Linked DNA regions of Homo sapiens. The protein of the gene in region 2 interacts with the protein of the main gene of each other region in a pairwise test. Each region holds a gene or a part of one and is shown on either strand. Other genes may lie near its edges.

The links.
Region 1: the proteins of SLC30A4 (region 2) and TNFRSF10C interact in binary tests that used the Homo sapiens proteins (3 or more experiments, as listed by UniProt).
Region 3: the proteins of SLC30A4 (region 2) and SERP2 interact in binary tests that used the Homo sapiens proteins (3 or more experiments, as listed by UniProt).

What each region holds. Positions count from the first base shown.
Region 1 is NC_000008.11:23,105,510-23,112,920, reverse strand, and holds part of TNFRSF10C (tumor necrosis factor receptor superfamily member 10C precursor), read right to left. Parts: intron 1,202-7,411; coding exon 1,096-1,201; intron 1-1,095. UniProt on the Homo sapiens protein: Receptor for the cytotoxic ligand TRAIL. Lacks a cytoplasmic death domain and hence is not capable of inducing apoptosis. May protect cells against TRAIL mediated apoptosis by competing with TRAIL-R1 and R2 for binding to the ligand.
Region 2 is NC_000015.10:45,505,282-45,513,104, forward strand, and holds part of SLC30A4 (probable proton-coupled zinc antiporter SLC30A4), read right to left. Parts: intron 6,004-7,823; coding exon 5,857-6,003; exon of another isoform or gene 5,855-5,856; intron 3,730-5,854; coding exon of another isoform or gene 3,668-3,729; exon of another isoform or gene 3,577-3,667; intron 1-3,576. UniProt on the Homo sapiens protein: Probable proton-coupled zinc ion antiporter mediating zinc import from cytoplasm potentially into the endocytic compartment. Controls zinc deposition in milk.
Region 3 is NC_000013.11:44,376,413-44,383,823, reverse strand, and holds part of SERP2 (stress-associated endoplasmic reticulum protein 2), read right to left. Parts: intron 4,184-7,411; coding exon 4,111-4,183; intron 1-4,110. UniProt on the Homo sapiens protein: Interacts with target proteins during their translocation into the lumen of the endoplasmic reticulum. Protects unfolded target proteins against degradation during ER stress. May facilitate glycosylation of target proteins after termination of ER stress.

The sequences.
Region 1 (7,411 bases), on a different chromosome or scaffold from region 2:
ATTAGTACAGCCATTATGGAAAACAGTATGGAGGTTCCTCAAAAAACAAAAAATAGAACAACTATATGATCTAGCAATCCCACTATTGGGTATACATCCAAAGGAAATGACGTCAGTATATTGAAGAGATATCTTCCCTCCCATATGCATTGGAGCATTATTTACAATGGTCAAGACATGGAATCAACCTACGTGTCCATGGATGGATGAAAAGTTAAAGAAAATGTGACACATAGATACAATGGAATACTATTCAGCCTTTAAAAAGAAGGGAGTTCTGTCATTTGTGTCAGCATGGATGAAGCTGGAGGATACTATGCTAAGTGAAATAAGCCAGGCACAGAAAGGCAAACACCTCATGATCTCACATATGTGGAATCAGAAAAAGTTGGTCTCATAGAGGTGGAGAGCAGAATGGTGATTACCAGGGCTTGAGTTGGATGGTGGGATGGGGAGATGTTAGTCAAAGGATACAAAATTTCAGTTAGACAGGGAGAATAAATTCAAGAGATGTATTGTGTGACATGGCGACTACAGTTATTAAAACAATGTGTTGTACAGTCCTGCCTTCTATCCACAGGGAATATATTCCATGGAACAAACTCTGCATATACTCAAGTCCCTGATATAAATTGGGATAGTATTGCATAAAACCCACGCACATATGCTTTAAATCATCTCTAGATTACTTGTAATACCTAATGCAATAGACATGCTATGTAAATAAGTGCTATACTGCATTGCTTTTTATCTGCTTTTATTGATGTATTATCATTTTTATTTCTTCCGCATATTTTTGATCTGTGGTTTGTTGCAACCATGGATACAGAACCCATAGATAAGGAAGGCTACAGAACCCACAGATAAAAAGGGCAAAGAGGGCTTATCCCAGGGCTCTGTATCCATACAGCTGAAAATTGCTGAGCAGATTTTTAAGTGTTCTTACCACGAATACATGATTAAGTATGTGAATTAGCTTGATTTAGCCATTCCACAATGCGTACATATTTCAAAACATCATGGTGTACATCATAAATACATACAATGTTTATCTGTCAATTAAAAATAAACTGATTTTTAAAAATAAGAGTGCACCTGCTGGACACTCCTCCCCCTTGAAGCTGTGCCTCTGTTGCTGTGGGGCCACTGTCTGCTGGGGAACTTCCTCCTGCCGGGCAGTGGTGGCAGAGTAAGCTAGGACCTGTGGGGACAAAGGAGTGATGGGTGTGAGTGACTTCCAGACCTCACCCCTCCCAGGCTCCATCTCACATTCCCTTCACCCCAAGTGACAAAACCCATCAGAGCTTGGACATTTTTTCCAGCTCCAAACTTTCATTCTTTCATACCTGTGTTTGTCCCTTGGCCTGTTAGGGCCAGCTATTTTCTATAAAAAAAAAAAAAAATACAGGCAAGCGCGATGGCTCAAGCTTGTAATCCCAGCAATGTGGAAGTCTGAGGCAGGTGGATCACAAGGTCAAGAGATCGAGACCATCCTGGCCAACACGGTGAAACCCTGTCTCTACTAAAAATACAAAAATTAGCTGGGTGTGGTGGCACACACCTGTAATCCCAGCTACTCAGGAGGCTGAGGCAGGAGAATAGCTTGAACCTGAGAGGCAGAGGTTGCAGTGAGCCAAGATCGCGCCATTGCACTCCAATGTGGTGACAGTGCGAGACTCCATCTCAAATAAAAAAAAAAAAGAAAAAATGAAAAGAAAAAGAAAAACACTTATGTATCCTTTTCTCATATTATAACATAAATTTACCCCAGATAATGGGAGCAAGAAGAGCTATTTTGTTTTTTTGATACAGAGTCTTGCTATGTTGCCCAGGCTGGAATGCAGTGGCTATTCACAGGTGTGATCATATCTTACTATAGGCTTGAACTCCTGGCCTGAAGTGATCCTCCTGCTTCAGTCTCCCAAGAAATGTGGATAAGAGGCACATGCCACCATGGTTGGAAAGAAAAGATTTTATAAGAATTTTAAAAAACCACACACATATGAGCCCTTCATGCAGAAATAGCATTTAATATATTTAGTTTCACCAAGTGTTTAATTGACCAATAGGTGAATTCTGTCTCTCACTCACACACACACAAATACACACAGACACACACTTAAACATACTCAGCTTTACAAATGAAGGTTATAATATATATAACCTTACAGAAAGTCAGGATATAGCATCAAACATTAAGTAATTAATTACTGCTTTACAAAGGACCTTGTCAAGCTGCTCCCACTAAATATCAAAGAGTGACAAAAAAGATGAAACAGCAATTCAGGGATTCTGGCCATGATCTCTATGTTATAAATGACAACTAGAAGACAACTGGAGAAATCGGAATAGAGTGCGGATAGATAGTGGTAATGTGTTGATGTTAATTTCCTTGTTTGTAGAAAGTACACACTAAAGAATTCAATAATAGCTTTCATCATGCCAACAGCCATTTTTTCAAATGTTTTTATTGTATAGTTTTTGTAACTTTTCTTTAAGTTGGGAGTGTTTTAAAGTAGGAAATTAATTTAAGCAAAACCAAAATGGTTACAATGAAAGCTGCTTATGTTGGGCTCAGTTCAACTGCCTGGATCTAAACAAGACAAAATGTAGCTTTCTTCCACATCAAAGCCTGACTAGCAGTTGGTGACAGTGAAGCTAACCCACTTTTCCCAAATCATTCTTTCCCGGGTTGGAGTCCCTCTAGGTTCAGGCGATGTCTGCGTCTCCTTTCTCTGCTCTCACACTCTTACTCCCTCTCATTTAATGAGGGGTTTATTAGTGTTTTTTAAAATCCTTTCAGAAGACCAACTTTTCATTTTGTCTTTTTTTTTTTTTTTTTTTTTTTTTTGGAGACAGGGTCTCCCTCTGTCCTCCATGTTGGAGCGCAGAGTGCAGTGGTGTAATCTCGGTTCACTACAACCTTTGCCTCCTCTGCCTCCCAGGCTCAAGTGGTCCTGCCACCTCAGTCCCCAAAGACAGGTGTGTGCCACAACGCCCATCTAATTTTCACATATTTTGTAGAGCTGGGGTTTCGCCATGTTGCCCAGAGTGGTTTAACTCCTGAGCTCAAGTGATCTGCCTGCCTGGGCCTCCCAAAGTACTGGGATTACAGGCGTAAGCCACCGCACACAGTTGGTTTTCTCAGTTCTTTCTGTGGTTTGTATTCTTTGATTTATGCTCCTTCCTGTTACTTTGTTTGGTTTAAATTTACACTTATATTTTATGATTGATTAATGTAGCTCCTCAGGCCATAATTTTCTTTTTCTTTTTCTTTTTTTTTTTTGAGATGGAGTCTCGCTGTCTCCCAGGCCGGAGTGCAGTGGCACAATCTCGGCTCACTGCAAGCTCCACCTCCCAGGTTCATGCTATTCTCCTGCCTCAGCCTCCCAAGTAACTGGGACTACAGGTGCCCGCCACCACGCCTGGCTAATTTTTTGTATTTTTAGTAGAGACAGGGTTTCACCGTGTTAGCCAGGATGGTCTCGATTTTCTGACCTCGTGATCCACCCTCCTCGGCCTCCCAAAGTGCTGGAATTACAGATGTGAGCCACCGTGCCCGGCCCATAATTTTCACGTTTTTTCTTTTTTTGACAGCTTTAGTGAGACACAATTCACATAATTAATAATTATGATTATTCATATAATTCACCCATTTAAAGTCCACACTTCAGCAGTTTTTAATATACTCATAGCTATGCAATCATCACTATAATCAATTTTAGAATATTTTTATCACTCCAGAAAGGAACTACATACCCTTCAGCAGTAACTCCCCATCTCCCTAACCCCCAGTTTTTTAATACAAACATTGAAAGCTGTATATTTCACCCTGAGCACTGTTAGCTATTTCGCACCACTTTTGATGTGTTATATTGTCATTATTACTTACTTTGAAATATCTTACCTTCCCTTTTGATTTCCTGTCTGAACCACAGATTTTTAGAAGTGTGTTGTTCAATATCAAAATTTTAGAATTCTCTGTGGATATTGTTACTGATTTCCAGTTTAGTTTCATTAAGTTTAGAGATCATATTGTGTGTTTTATAGCCCAGAACCTGGTCTATCTTGGTGAAAGTATCATGAGCATAGAAAGGAATGAGTGTTCAGTGAATGTTCCACTCCTGCTCTTTAAATGTCAGTTAAATCAAGGTGGTTGATAGTGTGCAGATCGCTTGCCACTTTACTGGCATTTTCATCTAATCATGCTAGCAAGTGCAGAGAAACAGCTGAGTTAATCTCTTTTTAATTCTATTTTTGTGTCATGTGTTTTGAAGATGTATTACTAGGCATATACAATTTGTTGTTATTATACTCCTTGAAGAATTAACCCTTTTAACTACAAAGGTCCCTTTTCATCTCCCATAATATTCAATGTCCTAAAATTGTCACAGTAGGCAGCTAGTTAGGTATGAGCAGGACAGGAGAGGGGTCCCCGCTTCTGACACCAGCAGTGTTGGGCGACCATCAGGTAGTTGATAACTGTGTCTCTAAAGTAATAACTGGTTACAGCCGATGCCAGAAAAAAGCAGTTTCCTAATACATAGAAAACACTTGAAACTGATCAGCAGCTTCCCAATAAGATTTCAGGAGTGGGGAGAAGTAAGGCAAGATCCTGGAAGTAGGCCAACCTATAAAACCCCAACTCAGGCGGTCCGGCTGCGTACTGTTTCTCAAGTCACCTGCTTGGCCATCTTCCAAGTGTACTTTCCTTCTTTTCTTTCTGTTCCTTCCTTTCCTTCCTGTTCCTTCCTTTCCTTCCTGTTCTAAAGCTTTTTAATAAACTTTCACTCCTGCTCTGAAACTTGCCTCCATCTCTGCTTCTGCCTTATGCCCCTCAAACCAGTTCTTTCTTCTCAGGAGGCGAAGAGCTGAAGGTGCTGTGGACGCATACGGATTCGCCGCCTTCAACGTAGGGTAACTCGGATCTCATCCACCGCTAACAAAATCAACTTCATCTGATACTGAGATAGCCATGGCAGTTTTCTTGGCCTTACACTCTGCATGGTGTATCTTTTTCCATCTATTTACTTTCAACAGACAACATCTGTGTCTTCCTTTTAAGGCCCATCTCATATAGACAAGATATAGTTGAGTCTTGCTTTCTCAGCCCTTCCAAACATTTCTACCATTGAACTGTAGTGCTCAGTGGATTTACAGGGAGTGCAATAATTGATATAGTTGAAATAGACCTGTAAGTTTACCATTTAAGCTATGATTGTCTAGTCTAATTTTTTTACTCCTTTTCCCCCTGCACATTTTAATGTTAATTACCTTTTAGAATTCCATTTTAATTGGATAAACTGACTTTTTATGCATACCTATTTCCATGATCTATGTGCAAGTGCTATAGGGAATACAGTATACACTCAAGTGTTTACATTCTATTGAAGGTTTTTTAAAAATGGATTCATTGAGGTATAATGGGCATGAAACAAAGTGTACATTTTTGAAGCATGTAGTTTGGTAGATTGAGACGTGTGTATACATTGTGGAACTACCACCACGATAAGAAAATGACATGTCCACCACACCCCAGAATTTCTTCATTCTTCAATGTAATCCTCTCTTCCGCTTTGCTCCTATGTCCCCAGCAATAATTCTGCTTTTTGTCAGAATAGATTGGTCGAATTTTAATGAGAAATGGAATCAGATGGTAAGCATTCTGTGTGGATTCCTTCACACGACATAATTTTCTGTGTTTTTCTGTTTTTCTGTTTGTTTGGTTTTTTGTTGTTGTTGTTGTGACCGGGTTTTGCTATGTTGCCCTGGCTGGTCTTGAACTCCTGGGCTCAAGTGATCTGCCTGTCTTGGCAGGACTACAGGTGTGAGCCATCGCACCCTGCCCACCCTGGTCAATTGACTATTATGAATTAAAGGCTATTGAAAAACAACAGGTGCAAGAAGATCCTTTGACCTCTTTTGTGTTTCCTAAAAGCAGGAGATGAAAGTCCCCAGGGAAACATAGGACAATCTCCTTTTTTTTTTTTTCTGAAAGCTCTGCTTCCCAGGTTCTCACCATTCTCCTGCCTCAGCCTCTCCAGTAGCTGGGACTACAGGCACCCGCCACCACACTCCGCTAATTGTTTTGTATTTTCAGTAGAGACGGGGTTTCACTGTGTTAGCCAGGATGGTCTCGATCTCCTGACCTCGTGATCCACCTGCCTTGACCTCCCGAAGTGCTGGGATTACAGGCGTGAGCCACCGCACCCAGCTGACAATTTCCTTATTTTTAAGGATGAGAAGTCGAGGCCAAGAGGGTACTGTGCAGACCATGTTAGAATGGATCCACTCTCATCTTTTTAGCTCCTCACATAGTTACTTGCTTCTTCATGAGTTACTTGGTCTAATTCAGTAAATAAGTAACTGACTCTCACAGGTTCTTCCATGCCAGGTAAAACTTGAATTAAATAAATGTGTGTGCTTGTCTCCTGTGGACCTCTCTTAGGTGAATCAAATTCTCAGGCCCAGCTAAAAAAAAAAAAAAAAAAATCGGGTGGGGGGGCATCTAAAGGAGAGCTTCGCTCCCCTCCCTGACCCTCAATGGTGACTGTAATCAAACCACATCTTCCAGGCCAACAGTACCACATCCTATGGCCCTGCAACAGCATGGCCTCTCTCCAGCACAGCCTCTCTGGAGGAGGGGGAGGCAAGGGTAGTGAGATCTCAGGCCTCCTTCATGCTACCTCCTATTAGTTATATAATCCCTGGGTCACCTCTCCCACCACACTGCGGGCTCCAGGGAACAGGATTCACATGGGGTTCATTTGTCCTCCCAAACTCCGGCGGACTCCAGGCACAGGTGTTCTCAGAGTAAAGGGCTCACTGTTTACTTCCTGGATGAATCACTTTCCCCTCAAGCCTATGAAGTGCGCGCAGTTGTGGCCTCAGCTCAAGGCCGAAGGACAGGCTCCAAGAGCCCTGTGAACTCTGCTGAGGAACCATAAGAGCTCCCAGAGGCCAAGGGCAGGACAGAGATCAGAGAAGCAGCTGCTCAGAGAACTCTAGCCCTGAATCTCATTTTACCACTTGTAAAACAGGAAAAACAACCTACCTTCATCTCCCCGGGTTGTTAGGAAATCCACTACATGAAGATGTGCATTCTCTGGCTGGAAGCAGGATACCAGCTGCCCAACGGCAGAGGCTCGGGGCATGGCACTGTCCCCACTGTCCCCATCCCTGACCTAGAAGCTAGAGCCTCACTGCCCTGCCACTCCTGGATACACGACAGAGGACCAGAACTGGGACTGTGGCCTCTCAGTACAGCCTGGGTGAGTAGCCATCTGCAGCCACCTGGATGGAGACATTTCCTGCTCACTCTTCAAACTACAACCCGGGCCAGGCGCCTACCAGAAGGACAACTGGAAGCATGGCAGGTAAACCAGGCTGTGGCCCTGCAGTGCCATCGCTG
Region 2 (7,823 bases):
ATCAATAGTCCATAAATAAATATAAACCAATCTAAAGCCTACAGAGAATGTGATCTTTTAAAGCAGAAACACATCCATATAACAACTAAAATGGCAATTACAGCTAAGCTATGGTTTGATATTTACTATTGTCAGATAGAGTGTAAAATTTCATTCTTCAGTGTAGAAGAAATTCCCAGGAAATCTAATTTTCTGCTTCCTCATGCAGAATCCCAAGACAATATCCTGTTTTCAATTTTTATTCAAAAGGAGCAAGGGAATATTACTTCTATCTGAATAGTTAAGTGGTTGTTCTCCTCCTTTAAGCTCTGACATTTTCAAACCAGAAGCTTCTATGTACTGTTATAAAGTGATCTGGAGGTGGAACTCTATATAGAATCACTGCCTCCAGGTCTAGAGTTGAGTATACAGTATACTGCCTATTGCATAAAAAAGGGTGGTGAGAAGCAGGATATGAACATATATATGTATTTGCTTATGTTTTCAAAAGGAAGTGCTGGAAGGATAGGCTAGAAACCAATTAAAAGGGTCTACTCTTATGGAATGGTATGGGGAGATGGAGTGGAGGGGAATGAAAGCAAGACTTCTCTGTGTTTTCTTTTAAAAAATAATTTTTGGCCAGGCATGATGGCTTATCTCTGTAATCCCAGCACTTTGGGAGGCCGAGGCGGGTGGATCACTTGATCTCAAGAGTTCAAAACCAGCCTGGGAAACAGGCTGCAGAGTTTGCAACCAGCCTGGGAAACAAAGCCTCGTCTCTACAAAAAATACAAAAGTTAGCCAGGCATGGTGGTGCATGCCTGTGGTCCCAGTCCCAGTCCCAGCTACTCGAGAGGCTGAGGTGGGAGGATTGCTTGAGCCTAGGAGGTCAAGGATGCAGGGGGCTGAGATCACGCCACTGCACTCCAGCCTGGACAACGGAGTGAGACCCACTCTCAAATAAATAAATTAATAAAATAAAATTTGACTTTTGCAACATGTTTTGCATATTTACAAAATAAATCAACAGAGAAAAAACCCATCCCTGTCCCACCCCACCATGTCATCAAAACAAAACAAAATTCAACAAGAATGGTAACAAACCAAGCTTCTTGTGGGGATTCCCTCTGTGAAGTTTTCAGGACCTGAATCTCCAAGTCTGGAATTAGAGATCACAAGAGCTACCCTACTTAAGTGTGTCCAAATGTAAATATATCTCTCCCCATAGAACTTCAAGAGATTACTCTGAAGCAATGGTACTGTGGAACTCAGGGACACCAACTGCTTTGGTTTACAGCTTTATTCATCAAATTCTATGTATCTTTGAATCTTCCTCAAGCAAACTAAGTTTTTTCTTCCAAATTTCCACCATTATTTCATAGAGCAGAATAAGTGAAATAAGGTCTATATCTAGATATCCCCTCATAATATTTCAGAATACAAAACAACAAAAAAAAGAAGATCCCAAAAGTTTCAGTGTGAAGCTTGAGTACCTTCTTAGCTCAGGAAATACCTATCTATCTATATCTTTAACAATTCCCTCCCTTTCATTTTTTTAGATGACTTTTAAAAATTGACATAAAATTCATGTAACAAAATTCACCATTTTAAAGTGTACAATTCAGTGGTTTTCAGTACATGTACAAGGTTGTGCAGCCATCATCACTACTAATTCCAGAACATGTTCAACACCTCAAAAAGAAATACCATATGCATTAAGTGGTTACTTCTTTTTATTTTTTAAGTTCTATTTTTCTGAGGTTCTTAATAGTAAGGCTTGGCTGGGGGCGGTGGCTCATGCCTATAAACCCAGCACTTTGGGAGGCCGAGGCGGGTGGATCACGAGGACGGGAGATCCAGATCATCCTGGCCAACATGGTGAAATCCCGTCTCTACTAAAAATACAAAAATTAGCCATGAGTGGCGGCGGGCCCCTGTAATCCCAGCTACTCTGGAGGCTGAGGCAGGAGAATCACTTGAACCTGGGAAGTGGAGGTTGCAGTAAGCCGAGACCGCGCCATTGCACTCCAGCCTGGGTGACACAGTGAGACTCTGTCTCAAAAATAAATAAATAAATAAATAAATAAATAAATAAATAATAAATTTCAGGAATAATTTTAATTTCAAAGAGCTATTTCTTGTATTTATTTTTCCAAAACATTTTACTGTTTTATTATTCTGAGCATATTAATAAGATAATTTAAAAACTTTTCTCCTGGTTCTGTTCTTTTCTTTTTCCTTTTTTTTTTTTTTGTCTCACTCTGTTGCCCAGGCTGGAGTGCAGTGGCTTGATCTTGGCTCACTGCAACCTCCACCTCCCAAGTTCAAGTGATTCTCATGTCTCAGCCTCCCATGCAGCTGGTATTACAGGTGGGCACCACCATGCCCAGCTAGGTTTTGTATTTTTAGTAGAAACAGGGTTTCACCATGTTGGCTAGGCTGGTCTCAAACTCCTGGCTTCAAGTGATCCGCCCACCTTGGCCTCCCAAAGTGATAGGATTACAGGCATGAGCCACCATGCCCAGCTTCTCCTGGTTCTTTAAGTTACTTCTCTTTCCTTTAGGGTTAATTTTTCTATTAGTTTAGTTTTGGTCATTTTAATTCATGGTGCTGGTTTTTCCCACATGCTGGAAGATTCTTGGTTGTCTATTCATACTTAGGGCAGAAGGATAGGGAAACTATCCTTTGTAAAAAGGAAATGCTGGAAGGATAAGCCAGAAATGAATTGAAATAATATTTTTTGGTAGAGACAGGGTCTTCCTATGTTGCCCAGGCTGGTCTCGAACTTCTGGGTTCAAGGGATCCTTCTGCCTCAGCCTCCCACAATGCTAGGATTGCAGGCATAAACCACCATGTCCAGCCTAAAATGGTTATTAATATGGGGTGTAGGGCAGGGCAGAGGATAACTATATTCCTTTAGGATGAGTAGGTGGAGAATCAGGATATGAGGTGGTAGAAATCTGAATTCTGGTAAAAGTAAGACTTATTTTGGAGCATCAACTTCCACACTAATTCTTAGTTTTCCCTGAACATTTTGTTCAGTTTCTTTCTAGAAGAACTATGTGGTGTTTTACTTGGCGGAAAGTGTAGGCTGCCTGAGTAGAGGTAGGAGTAAGAAGGGAGGTAGGGGCATAGTGACCACTGGGAACGGCTTCCCACTTATTCAATTAATCTTCCGTTTTCAGCCCCAATTCTCATTTCTGCTCATCTCTGTCCCTAAGCCTTAAGATCTGTTGGGCTGGTCCAGTTCCTAGTTCAGAGTATGTTCTACACATTGCTTCTTGGCTTGTTTTCTCCTTCAACCCACTCATATGTACTTTACAACTTCCAAAAATTTCTGGAAATGTGTTTACTGGTAACCCAATCATGTAATTCTCTTTGGTGTTTTGGTACCTCTATGTTTTTATCTTAATGGACTCTCAGAGAGACAGGAATCAAATGGTGCTGTCTGGTCTACCTTCTTGGAACTTAGTACTTTTAAGGAAAGGGAAAGATTTGACTTTCTATAGAAAATTCCAGAGACACAATAGGACCGGTCAGTTCTATTGTCTCTTATTTTTACATAGTATTTATTTATGAAGAAGCAAAGTGACTATGTAGAACAAACACTAAGTACTTCTTTAATATTTAATAGAAGTTTCATTATTATGGGTTCTTAACTTATATGTGTAGCATCTTCTGTGTTCTGTTATTGCATGTTTCTGAGGGAGTGTTTCACTGCTTTCATCAGAATTCCAAAGGGTTTATAACCTAAAAGAGTTTAAGAACCACAGGACTATATAAATGTACTCTCTCAAGCAGTGTTAAAAAAATTCCCATTCCATGATGATATGTTTACATCTTAGATCTTAACTGCAGGTGTTTAAATCTCAAAAAAATTAATGTTTAAAAATAATTTTGAAGCTGTTTAAAAATCCTAAGGCAACCAGTAAACAAATGACTATATAATATGTTGAGAAGCAGTGGAGTTTCCTTTAGGAACACATTCTTTTTTTTTTTTTTTTTTGAGAGAGACAAGAGTCTTACTCTGCCGCCCAGAATGGAGTGCAGCAGCATGATCTAGGCTCACTACAACCTCCGCCTCCCGGGTTCAAGCAGTTCTTCTGCCTCAGCTTCCTGAGTAGCTGGGATTACAGGCGTGCACCACCATGCCCAGCTAATTTCTGTATTTTTAGTAGATATGGGGTTTCACCATGTTGGCTAGGCTGGTCTTGAACTCCTGATCTCAGGTGATCCGCCCACCTCGGCCTCCCAAAGTGCTGGGATTACAGACGTGAGCCACCGTGCCTGGCCAGGAACACATTCACATGCATTATGCAGTAGCTTAACAAAAGAAAAACTTCACTTGGGGCTTTAGCTCTTTTGTACAGTAGCTGAGAGTACGGAGGGGTGGGGATGCTAGATAATTTTCCAACCTGATGACCTGGATAGCTACTTGGAATATCACCATTTAGGTACAGTGTCAAGTTTTGCACCAGAAGACCCAGTCACTAAGTAAGAGGTCCTGGATGCTGTGGGCCAGTCATGGCAGCTCACACCTGTAATCCCAGCACTCTGGGAGGCCAAGGTAGGAGGATGGCTTGAGCACAGGAGTTTGACATCAGCCTGGGCAAAGGATGACCCCCTTGTAGGTAGGCCCTGTCTCTACAAAAATCACAAAAATTAGCTGAGCATGCTAGTGCACGCCTATAGTCCCAGCTACTCGGGAGGCTGAGGTGGAAGGATCACTTGAGCCTGGAAGGTGGAGGTTGTAGTGAGCTGAGATCACACCACTGCACTCCAGCCTGGGCAACAGCGCAAGAAGATCACACCACTGCACTCCAGCCTGGGCAACAGTGCAAGAAGATCACACCACTGCACTCCAGCCTGGGCAACAGAATAAGACTCTGTCTTAAAAGCAAAAACGAGAAATAAATTCAAAGAAAATGTACGTAAAGAAACAAAAAGTTTACTGCACTCCAGCCTGGGCAACAGAGCAAGACTCTGTCTTAAAAGCAAAAAACAAAAAACAAATACAAAGAAAATATAGGTAAAGAAACAAACAAAAAATCTACAGTCTAAGTTTTTTTAGGCTAAAAAATAAAAAAGATGATGAGGAATTGATTGATATATTAGCCAGGAGCATCAGTGTTCCTACAAAATGAAATTATCAGATATTAACTCTAGTTCTTTGAGGCAAGTTTTGCTGAAGCTACTTAAATGTCAACTTTTGGGTTCTACTTTTGAGTCTGACATCTGGGTAAATGTTACTTCATATAATAGTTCAGGTAATTATTTTATACATATTTTCAAAATAAGCAAAAAATTTAAAAACAGTAATACAGTAAGAAGCAGAGCTGTGTAGATAGCAATGTATGATTTTAACTCTTTATAATTAAACATTAAAATTTGTTCAAAACAGGCAAATAAAAATGTGTGCATTTGCAGAATTATGTTGATACGATGGCTGCAGTCAAGTTCAGCCACACAGCATACATTATACCTGTGATAGCTCTGCTTAAAATCTAAGCTATGGTAGCTTTGGCTGAAATACCTGAAGTAAAAGAGAGAAGCTAATGCTCATTAACGGGTTAAACCCATGTGGTTTTGCTTTGTTCAATAAACTGAAAGTAAACTTTTTTCTGATGATATCTTCAGGACATAGGGAGCAACCTTTGAAGATTAATGATCATCATATAATTTTATATGTGTAAACTGTTTAGCTGACTAGGCTAAATGTACCCTGGAAAAGATGTTTCTGAATAAATTTTGTTTATCTATTTTCATTTGCTTTGTTCAAACAAGATATCACTGGAACGAGTTCAGTTAATCAGGGTTATAGTTCATTGTGGTTTTACTATAAAATATTATAAAGCAAAAGAAACACCAACTACCTACCTAAGCGATGAAATCCAAAGGTGAATCTTTTGGTTGGTGATTTTGATGATAGCCACAAAGCAAGCAGGGTGAGTATGATGGCGCTTAGGTCAGTTAACATATGAAGTGCATCTGTCATGATTGCTAGGCTATTTGCAATGTATCCACCTTAGAGTTACAAGTAGGAGAAAAAAGGAACAAGTTAATTTTTTAAAAAAGCAAGCAATCAAACTAGAAATATGCAATATCCTACAAAACATGAACTTCTAACTAAATCTTTATCCCATTACAATTAAATCAAGGTATTCTGAAATTTCATTCAAAATATTAGATATAGGTTCATTTTTCTGGTGAGAATATCCACTTCTTTTTTTCTTTTTTTTTTGAGACAGAGTCTCACTCTGTTGCCCAGGCTGGAGTGCAGTGGTGCAATCTCAGCTCACTGCAACCTCTGCCTTCTGGGTTCAAGTGATTCTTCTGCCTCAGCCTCCCGAGTAGCTGGGACTACAGGCACGTGCCACCACGCCCGGCTAATTTTTGTATTTTTAGTAGAGACAGGGTTTCACCATGTTGGCCAGGCTGGTCTCAAACTCCTGACCTCAACTGATCCACTCGCCTCGGCCTTGCAAGTGTTGGGATTATAGGCGTAAGCCAATGTGTCCAGCCAGAATATCCATTTCTAGTAACACATGCTGCAAGGAGTCAATGACCTTTAGAAAGTTAAGAACCACAAGGCAAATATATAGTGATTTTGTGTCTTGGTACTGAAGCTTTTGCTTAACTTACTAATTCTACTATTAGTGAATTAATAACCATATCTAAATATTACAACAAAGCTGAAGAAAAGAAGGGTGTTCACTTGTTGAGGGGCGTTGGAACATAAAATTAAACTGAGAAAACCTACAAAATGTACATTAGTTCGATATAAAATATGTAAAAATTAACTGATTCACTTAGCAACATCTCTGAAGAGGGGTACAAAAGGTAGTATTTAGGATACAATTTTTGTTATCGATTTTCCAGGCATTTAATATATATATTATACATTGTTTCATTGTGTGTCTGTATTGTCCCATAATGGACAACCAATTTTCCTAGCACTATTCACTGAATAAGCTTTTATGTGTATCAGAATCACCTGGAGGGCTTGTTAAACTACAAACTGCTTAACTCTACTCCCAGAATTTCTGATTCGGTAGGTCTGGGATGGTGATGGGGATGGGACCTGAGAATGTATATTGCTAACATGCTCCCAGGTAATGCTGATGCTTCAAGTCTTGGAACCACACTTCGAGAATCACTGTTATAATGTACAGCAGAACTGCATGATCAGGTAAGTGTGCTGAGCTGTTGATCCTCCTCATTCCTGAGCTGGGTGTGTAGAGACAAGAGCAGGAGACTAGGGGCTGATGATCTTTTAGTCACATCCATTTACCCCAGAGTGCTCTATACAAATAGCATTTTTATGTATTCCCCGGCATGAAAAAGCTGGAAAGCACCAAGAGAAGGTTGGTGTTAAACAACATGAAGTTTTGGAATCTCAGAAAGTCTGAATGAGTTAATTTTTTTGAGCTTTAGCATACTTATCATTTTATAATGAGGATAATTCCTTAAAGCAATTCTGTCCAATAGAACTTTGAGATGATAGAAATGTTCTGTATCTGAGCTGTCCAATGGTGTAGCCACTAGTCACATGTGGCTTTTCAGCATTTAAAAAATGGCTAGTAAGGTTGGGGCACAGTGGCTTATGCCTGTAATACCAGCTGTTTGGGAGGCCGAGGTGGGAGAACTGCTTGAGTGTAAGAGTCTGAGGCTGCAGTAAGCTTTATATAATGGCACCAGTTCACTCCAACTTGGGTGACAAGAGTGAGACATTGACTAAAAAAAAAAAAGAAAAATGGGGCCAGGTGCAGTGGCTCACGCCTGTAATCCCAACACTTTGGGAGGCTGAGGCAGGCGGATCACCTGAGCTCAGGAGTTTGAGACCA
Region 3 (7,411 bases), on a different chromosome or scaffold from region 2:
ATCCCAGCACTTTGGGAGGCCAAGGTGGGCGGATCATGAGGTCAAGAGATCAAGACCATTCTGGCCAACATGGTGAAACCCCGTCACTACTAAAAAAAAAAAAAAAAAATTAGCTGGGCATGGTGGTGCGTGCTTGCAGTTCCAGCTACTCAGGAGGCTGAGGCAGGAGAATCGCTTGAACCTGGGAGGTGGAGGTTGCCGTGGGCCGAGATTGCGCCACTGCACTCCAGCCTGTCAATAGAACGAGACTCTGTCTCAAAAAAAAAAAAACAAAAAAAACGCAAACCTCCAGAGAGGTGGAGCTAACATACTCAATCCCTAGGAAACTGCTGGAGACCAGGAGAGTTCTAAAAGATGCTTGTTAGCAAATGTCCCAATTTACCCAAGAGGGAAAGATACAGGTCCTGCTGCATGGGCTGGTAAGCCAGGCAAAAGTTTAGGCCATATAATAGTTTTTTAAACCCTCCAAAAAGGAAGAGATGGGTTTTGAGAGTTGGCATGGGTTTGAGAAAAATAAGCCACGCCAAATGACTCTACTGGCTTTTTCCCTTATAGGCTGCCTAAGGGGGCAGACTGGAGAAGGCCACAGTTACTGTGTATCTTGAAGCCTATATATATCTTTATCTACTTAGACCCTTGACAATACAGGTGGCATGGTCACGGGGCTCAGGGATGCCTGAGAGTAGGCTTTGGCCATTCTGAGCACCTTATATTCTTGAGCCCAGCACATTCTCTGAAGCCACCATGCCACCGCCACATAGTGTTCCCATGCAGAATCACCTTCCTCACACCCTTTGTCTGGCTGTTTGTTCTTCAAGACTCCGCTCAAACAGCACCTCCCCTTGGAAACTTTCTCTTCTGCTGAGTATGATTTAGAAGTTCCTTATCCATGCCAGCCAAGCACCCTGTAAACTCTGCTGTCACTATCGCAGTGCGCTTTCCCTGGGCTGCAACTGACAGCTTCCTTATCTGCCTCTCCCAATGCCTGCAAGTACCCAAACAGGATTGTATTTCCAAAGCCCGGCACAGTGCCAGGCACAGAGGGGACCCTCAAGACATGATGATTGCTTGAATGAGTTTTGCTTAGAGGCTCAAAGTCAACCTGAAAGAGGTTGTCTCTGATTGTGTTCTGTGGGTTTCTCCAAGTCTAGACTTTTATCAGTGACTTGGAAGAATAATATATTTTCAGGGACCATAACACTGGGAAAAAAGGGTAAGTAGATCAGAGGCTTAAAGTTCAAGGTCTGACAATCTACAGACTGGTCATACAGCCTGAAAACATAGCTAACTTTTTTGTACAGGTTTATTTTCTTGATTTTCCTGTGGTATGATAAAGGCATAGTTTTGTTTGTTTTTATTTTGTTCTTTTTTTTTTTTTTTTTTTTTTGAGACGGAGTCTCGCTCTGTCGCCCAGGCTGGAGTGCAGTGGCACAATCTCGGCTCACTGCAAGCTCCACCTCCCTGGTTCACGCCATTCTCCTGCCTCAGCCTCCTAAGTAGCTGGGACTACAGGCACCTGCCACCAGGTCCGGCTAATTTTTTTGTATTTTTAGTAGAGACGGGGCTTCATCGTGTTAGCCAGGATGGTCTTATCTCCTGACCTCATGATCCGCCCGCCTCGGCCTCCCAAATGCTGGGATTACAGGCGTGAGCCACCGCGCCCAGCCTAAAATTTTAATAGAAGTAATCGTTCTTCTTTGAGAATAAAAAAAAAAGTCATAAAGTTTTATATTAGGTCTCAAAAAAGGTCAACTAGATATCTACAGTATGAGGAATATCTGGCTTTATCCATCCATCCATCCATCCATCCATCCATCCATCCATCCATCCATCCTAAGCACTAACTATGTGCTAAATACTAAACTAGGATCTACAAATTTAATGAAAAATAAACACTGTCTCCCCTGAGCTTATATCCTACTGGAGGGAAATGAACCTAAGTAAGTAAACTAAATAACTGCAACTGCTGATGAGGGTCATGAGTAAAATAAAATAATATGTGATGGAGACAGGAGAGACTTGGGATAAAGGGGTATGTAGATGTGTTTCCGGGGTTGCAGGAAGTTTATCTGAGGAAGAGCTGGGTGGCATCTGGCTGGCCATCAGCTAGACGTGAGTCAAGGATGTGCTGCAACTGTTAAAAAGTAACTGCAAGCCTGGGTCACATTAATAGAGGCAGAGTGGTGAGCAAAATCAAGGGCAGTGACAATCCTACTGCCTCTGTGGTGGTCACACTGCTTCTAGACCACCTTCTGCAGTTGCAAATGCTATACTTTTTTTTTGAGACGCAGTCTCGCTCAGTTGCCCAGGAAGGAGTACAGTGGCACGATCTCGGCTCACTGCAAGCTCCACCTCTGCAGTTCAAGTGATTCTCCTGCCTCAGCCTCCTGAGTAGCTGGGACTACAGGCGCGTGCCACCATGTCCAGCTCATTTTTTGTATTTTTAGTAGAGACAGGGTTTCACCATGTTGGCCAGGATGGTCTCGAACTCCAGACCTTGTGATCCTCCCCACCTCGGCCTCCCAAAGTGCTGGGATTACAGGCGTGAGCCACTGCGCCTGGCTTTTTTTTTTTTTTTTTTTTTTGAGACGGAGTTTCACTCTTGTTGCCCAGGCTGGAGTGCAATGGCGCGATCTCTGGCTCATGGCAACCTCTGCCTTCTGGGTTCAAGTGATTCTCCTGCCTCAGTCTCCCAAGTAGCTGGGATTACAGGCATGCGCTGCCAAATGCTACCCTTTAAGAAAGTCATTGAGCAGATCCAGAAGAGGAGTCTAGAAACCACATCTTATGAGGCAAGGTCGAGAGATTTAGGGAAGCTTAGTTTGCAGAAGGAGCCACCAGGCAGTCATCTTTAAAATATCTGATGATTCAAGGTGCTTAGAGGAGAACGAGTCCATTCTGTGTTACCCTAGGAGTTCAAATCTGAACAACTGAGAAGACAGCATAGTGTAATTCAAAACAGGAGAGACATTTCTAATAGAATTCCAGCAGACATGGAATAGGCTTTTTGAAGAAGTATTCAAATAGGGATTGGGTAAACAGCTGTTTAAAAGATGTCCTTAAAGATACTTCTTTGGGAATAGAGTAGAACTGTCTTTCTTTGAGTGTAAGATTTTCTCATCTTGGAATGCCAAATCATCTTTAAAATATTTGAGCCACAAGCAACAATAATGCCAAGTACTTTGGATCCTTCCTTCCTCCTAAGAGTTTTTGCTTCTTTGGAAGAGTGGTCTCTTGAAGATAAAAGGAACTGATCCATCTTAAATTTTTTTTTTAATTTTCATGATTTTAGGTTTGAATGCATGATTCATCTTTAGTCATGGGCTTCTCTTGTCATTGGGGCAGAGGCTGTCTTGCTGGGAGGCCTAAGCCTGAGCAGGAAGATGTGGACCTTCTGCCTCCCTGCCCTCAGTAACAGTGAGATGCTGGAGGGTGGGAATCCCTCAAGGCATGCTGTGTAGTTAGAAGAAGTGACCTCCACTCACAAGGATTTCTGAGACCCAACATATGGGGATCAGGAACCATGTCAAGGCTAGTTCAGCATGTAACTAGAAACAATGGCACGATGCTTCTGCTCATCTTCCCTGCATTTGTGTGTATGTGTGTATCTGCATGTGTGTAAGTAAAGCTCTCAACTTGCCACCTTACAGTATCAGGTGACCCATACCTTAAGGCTTGGGTCAAAGGCTCAGTTGTATCTAGGAAGTTGTATCTAGGAGCTCTGCAGAACTTTCTCATAAGGCATAAGGCCTCTCCCTTTCTCGGAATGTGGATTTATCACAGGCACACAGGTGTTTCACCTTCTGTTCTAATGCCCTTTTAAGGCTATGTCTGCACAAAAAGACTTTACTGAACTCTACAGTGTATACAGCCACTTTAACTACTCAGTGTAATCATTTTATGATTAGGATTTGATAGTGTATTAATTGTGTCTCTACCTATATTTGGAATAGAAACTAAATCAAAACCCATTAAGATTAAGGCTTAAGGCAGTGATAAACTTGAATCCCATACCAGTATGTTTTTCATCTATTTGCTTTGTGAAGAAAACGTGTGTTTTTCAAAGGCCAGTGGAGAACATGGGATATAAGTTCAGTGAAACACCCATACCTGAGCCACAGACAACAAAAACAAACAGTGCCAACAGCCATGGTCCCACAGGATATTTCTCCTCTTGCGGCCTCTAAAAGGGAATGGGAAAAAGTAAGATTAGGTTCATTGACTCAATAAACAATTATTTGAGTATCACTAGGCATTGTGCTAGGTGCTGGGGATTCTACTGCGAATGAGACAGACTTGGTTTCAATCCCTCAGTGGACAGATATAGATGAATGAAGTCCATTAAAAGGATTGAGACAGGTTTGTAAAAATTCATCCATAACCTTATTAACATCCCTGTAACTCAGTGAACTTGGTGGTCTTAAATATTCTGGGGACAGATATGGTATGAATACATAAACCAATATGGCGATTTAGGAACCAAAATGATATTAATAATAACTTTCCATCTGCTGAGTAATGCTCTGTGCCAGGCACTACACTAGGCAGTCTGCATTCATTATTTCTGGCAAGTATTATTATTTCCATTTTGGAGTTGAGAAACTGAGGCTCAAAGTTTGTTAACTTGAGCAAGAGCTGGGATTCAAATTTAGGTCTGCCTCATTATAAAGCCTGAGTATTTTCCATTAACAGATTCAATATTTAGTTTTTGCATCTGTGAATTCCAAGCAGGATCAGAGAGCACAGACATTTTCTGAAAACCTTTTACATAACCCCAAATTAGGAAGTCAGTACAGTGGAAATCCTTGCAACAACAGAAGCACCACAGCAATTGTGAATGGTTATGAGTGAAGCAGCATTTTGTAATAAAGCTCCTAAGCCTTAATAAAGCTTGCACTTGGGAGAAGTCTCTGAATTCTCTGGGAAGCAGAAGGGGACTGTCAAAACTGCATGAATGAAGCCCTACAGACCTCCTGCTTTTTCAAACCAAAAGCACAGACATAATAAGATCTTCCCTCCACAACACCTCCAGGTCTATGTGCAGGTAGGGCTTGGTCCTTAAACCCAAATCAGTCAGAACAACAAATATTTTCTGAGAGATGCATCAGAAAAGAAGTGAATTTCTCAAATAGAATGGGAGAGTGAAAAAAAAAACAACAACAAAGAACTCACTAATTATTTTCTGATTAGCTTGAAAAATAGGCTGCATTCAACACACGTTAAAGAATTCACATGCAAAACACACAAAGAAAAACGTGTTGGTAGAGTGGAATGTTCACAAGTATTGATTTGTGGTTGATCTCATAAAACCCAATTCCAGATTTCAATTAAATGTTGTTGACATTTAAACATTGTATTCAACATTGTAAAATATGGGCTAAAAGGTATGTTCATATCCATACAAATACCACAGCTTGACATTCAGACTGAAGGTATGTAATAGTGTTTCAAAAAAAACGAGTGGTGCTATCATCAAGGATGTAAGTTTTTGAAATGTTGAACAAGTTTTAGTAATGTTTCTAACAAAAACTTCTTTAAAAAAGGATAATCTTCCTTTGATTTTCACTGTAGTTGCTTTCCTAGAAAATTTATCATATATTAAAACTGTAAAATCTATGATGTGTTGTATTTATATGTAAAATTAAGTTCTAGGCTAATGTAAATGTAAACTGGCTTCTCATCTAAAAAAGGAATTTATTTTATCATAGATAAGGCAACAGTTCTTTAGTTTTCAGCTTACCAAAGAGCCCTTCTCTTTTACCTCACTTGGGTCCACTCGTCACTTGTATGGCCACATACTTTTTCTTGATAGCATGTGTCACAGTTTGTAGGTCTATATTTATTCTTGTGATAATTAATGTGTTTAATATCTGTCTCTCTATGAGACTACAGACCCCACAAGGGCAGGGACTATGTCTTGTTCATGTAGTAATATATAGAAATGCCTGCCACAGAACTTAAACATAGGAGATAATAAACGTTCATCAAAGAACAAATAAACATACAAGTTTCATTAAATAAGATTTCTTAGGTTAGGCAGAGTAAACACAGGTTCTAGGAAGGATATTGTCTTTTTAGTAATAATTCCTAATTGGTGTAGGATTATCCCTGTATCTCTCCTACATGAGAAATATGGATTAAAGTGTCAACGGCAGGTAGACTTTGACTAAGGATTAAGACATTCACTTCTCTGTCCTTGACTAAGCCTGTATCTACCACCACTTACATGCCGGCAAGTCACACTGCAAAGGAATCGGTGGCTGCTCTTAATCAGACGAGGACAAGATCAGTCTTAAATAATTGCATAAGATAACTGTGCCATTTTTTGGCCCTTAAGGCCAGGCCAAGTTCAGATCCGGTAAACAACATTCATAAAGCTACCTGAACAAAGTGTGACATTCGCCCTTCCCACCCTCTTCCACCACCTTCCCAGGAACTTGTCACAGTTGCCCAGAAACCAGTTCTGTTGCTGTTGTGCCACTGATGCTATATAAAAAAATTCATTTTATCTCTATTTCCAGCAAAGCTAATAAGTGAATTCAGAAGCCTGTAATGAATTACTTGCCCAGGACAGATACCAAATAGAGTCCTTTATTTTTCATATGCAGAAAAAACAGATGATCAGCATGTAGAGCTTGGACCATATAACACAAAAACCTTTTGGATGACATTCTCCATGGAATCAACATGATTTGGGGACTTTGGCTGATCATAGTACCCATATATCTTTTTTTTGACAGCTTTGGGTGACTACTTTTTAGAAGGGGTGCCCAGCACAATCCCATTGGGACAATTCACATAAACCTTACTCTATGGCTGGAAAAGGTGGGGAAAACTAGTAGTGATTCTGCAAATGACATGGTTTACTCCAAACATGAGTTTGCTACTTCTTGAGGCTCCAAAAATGTCAGGGAATGGCTTTCCCTGTGATTAAGATACCCGTAGGGTAACTCAGAACTCTGAAATTTAAATTCCCCCTTCATTCTGGAGAAGTTACTACTGTATAATCACAAAATGATTATTCCATTTCTCTGTTTCCTTTTTTTTTTTAGACGGAGTCTTGCTCTGTCACCCAGACTGGAGTGCGGTGGCGTGATCTCGGCTGACTGCAACCTCTGCCTCCCGGGTTCAAGCCATTCTCATGCCTCAGCCTCCTGAGTAGCTGGGATTACAGGCGCCCACCACCATGCCTGGCTAATTTTTGTATTTTTAGTAGATACGGGGTTGTGCCATGTTGGCCAGGCTGGTTTCGAACTCCTGACCTCAGGTGATCCATCCGCCTTGGCCTCCGAAAGTGCTGAGATTACAGAAAGTGCTGAGCCACCACGCCCGGCCTTGTTTCTTGGATTAGTCTGCTATCTGGGAGAATAATATTAATTTATCCGTAAGCTATTAGCTAATAATAAAATAC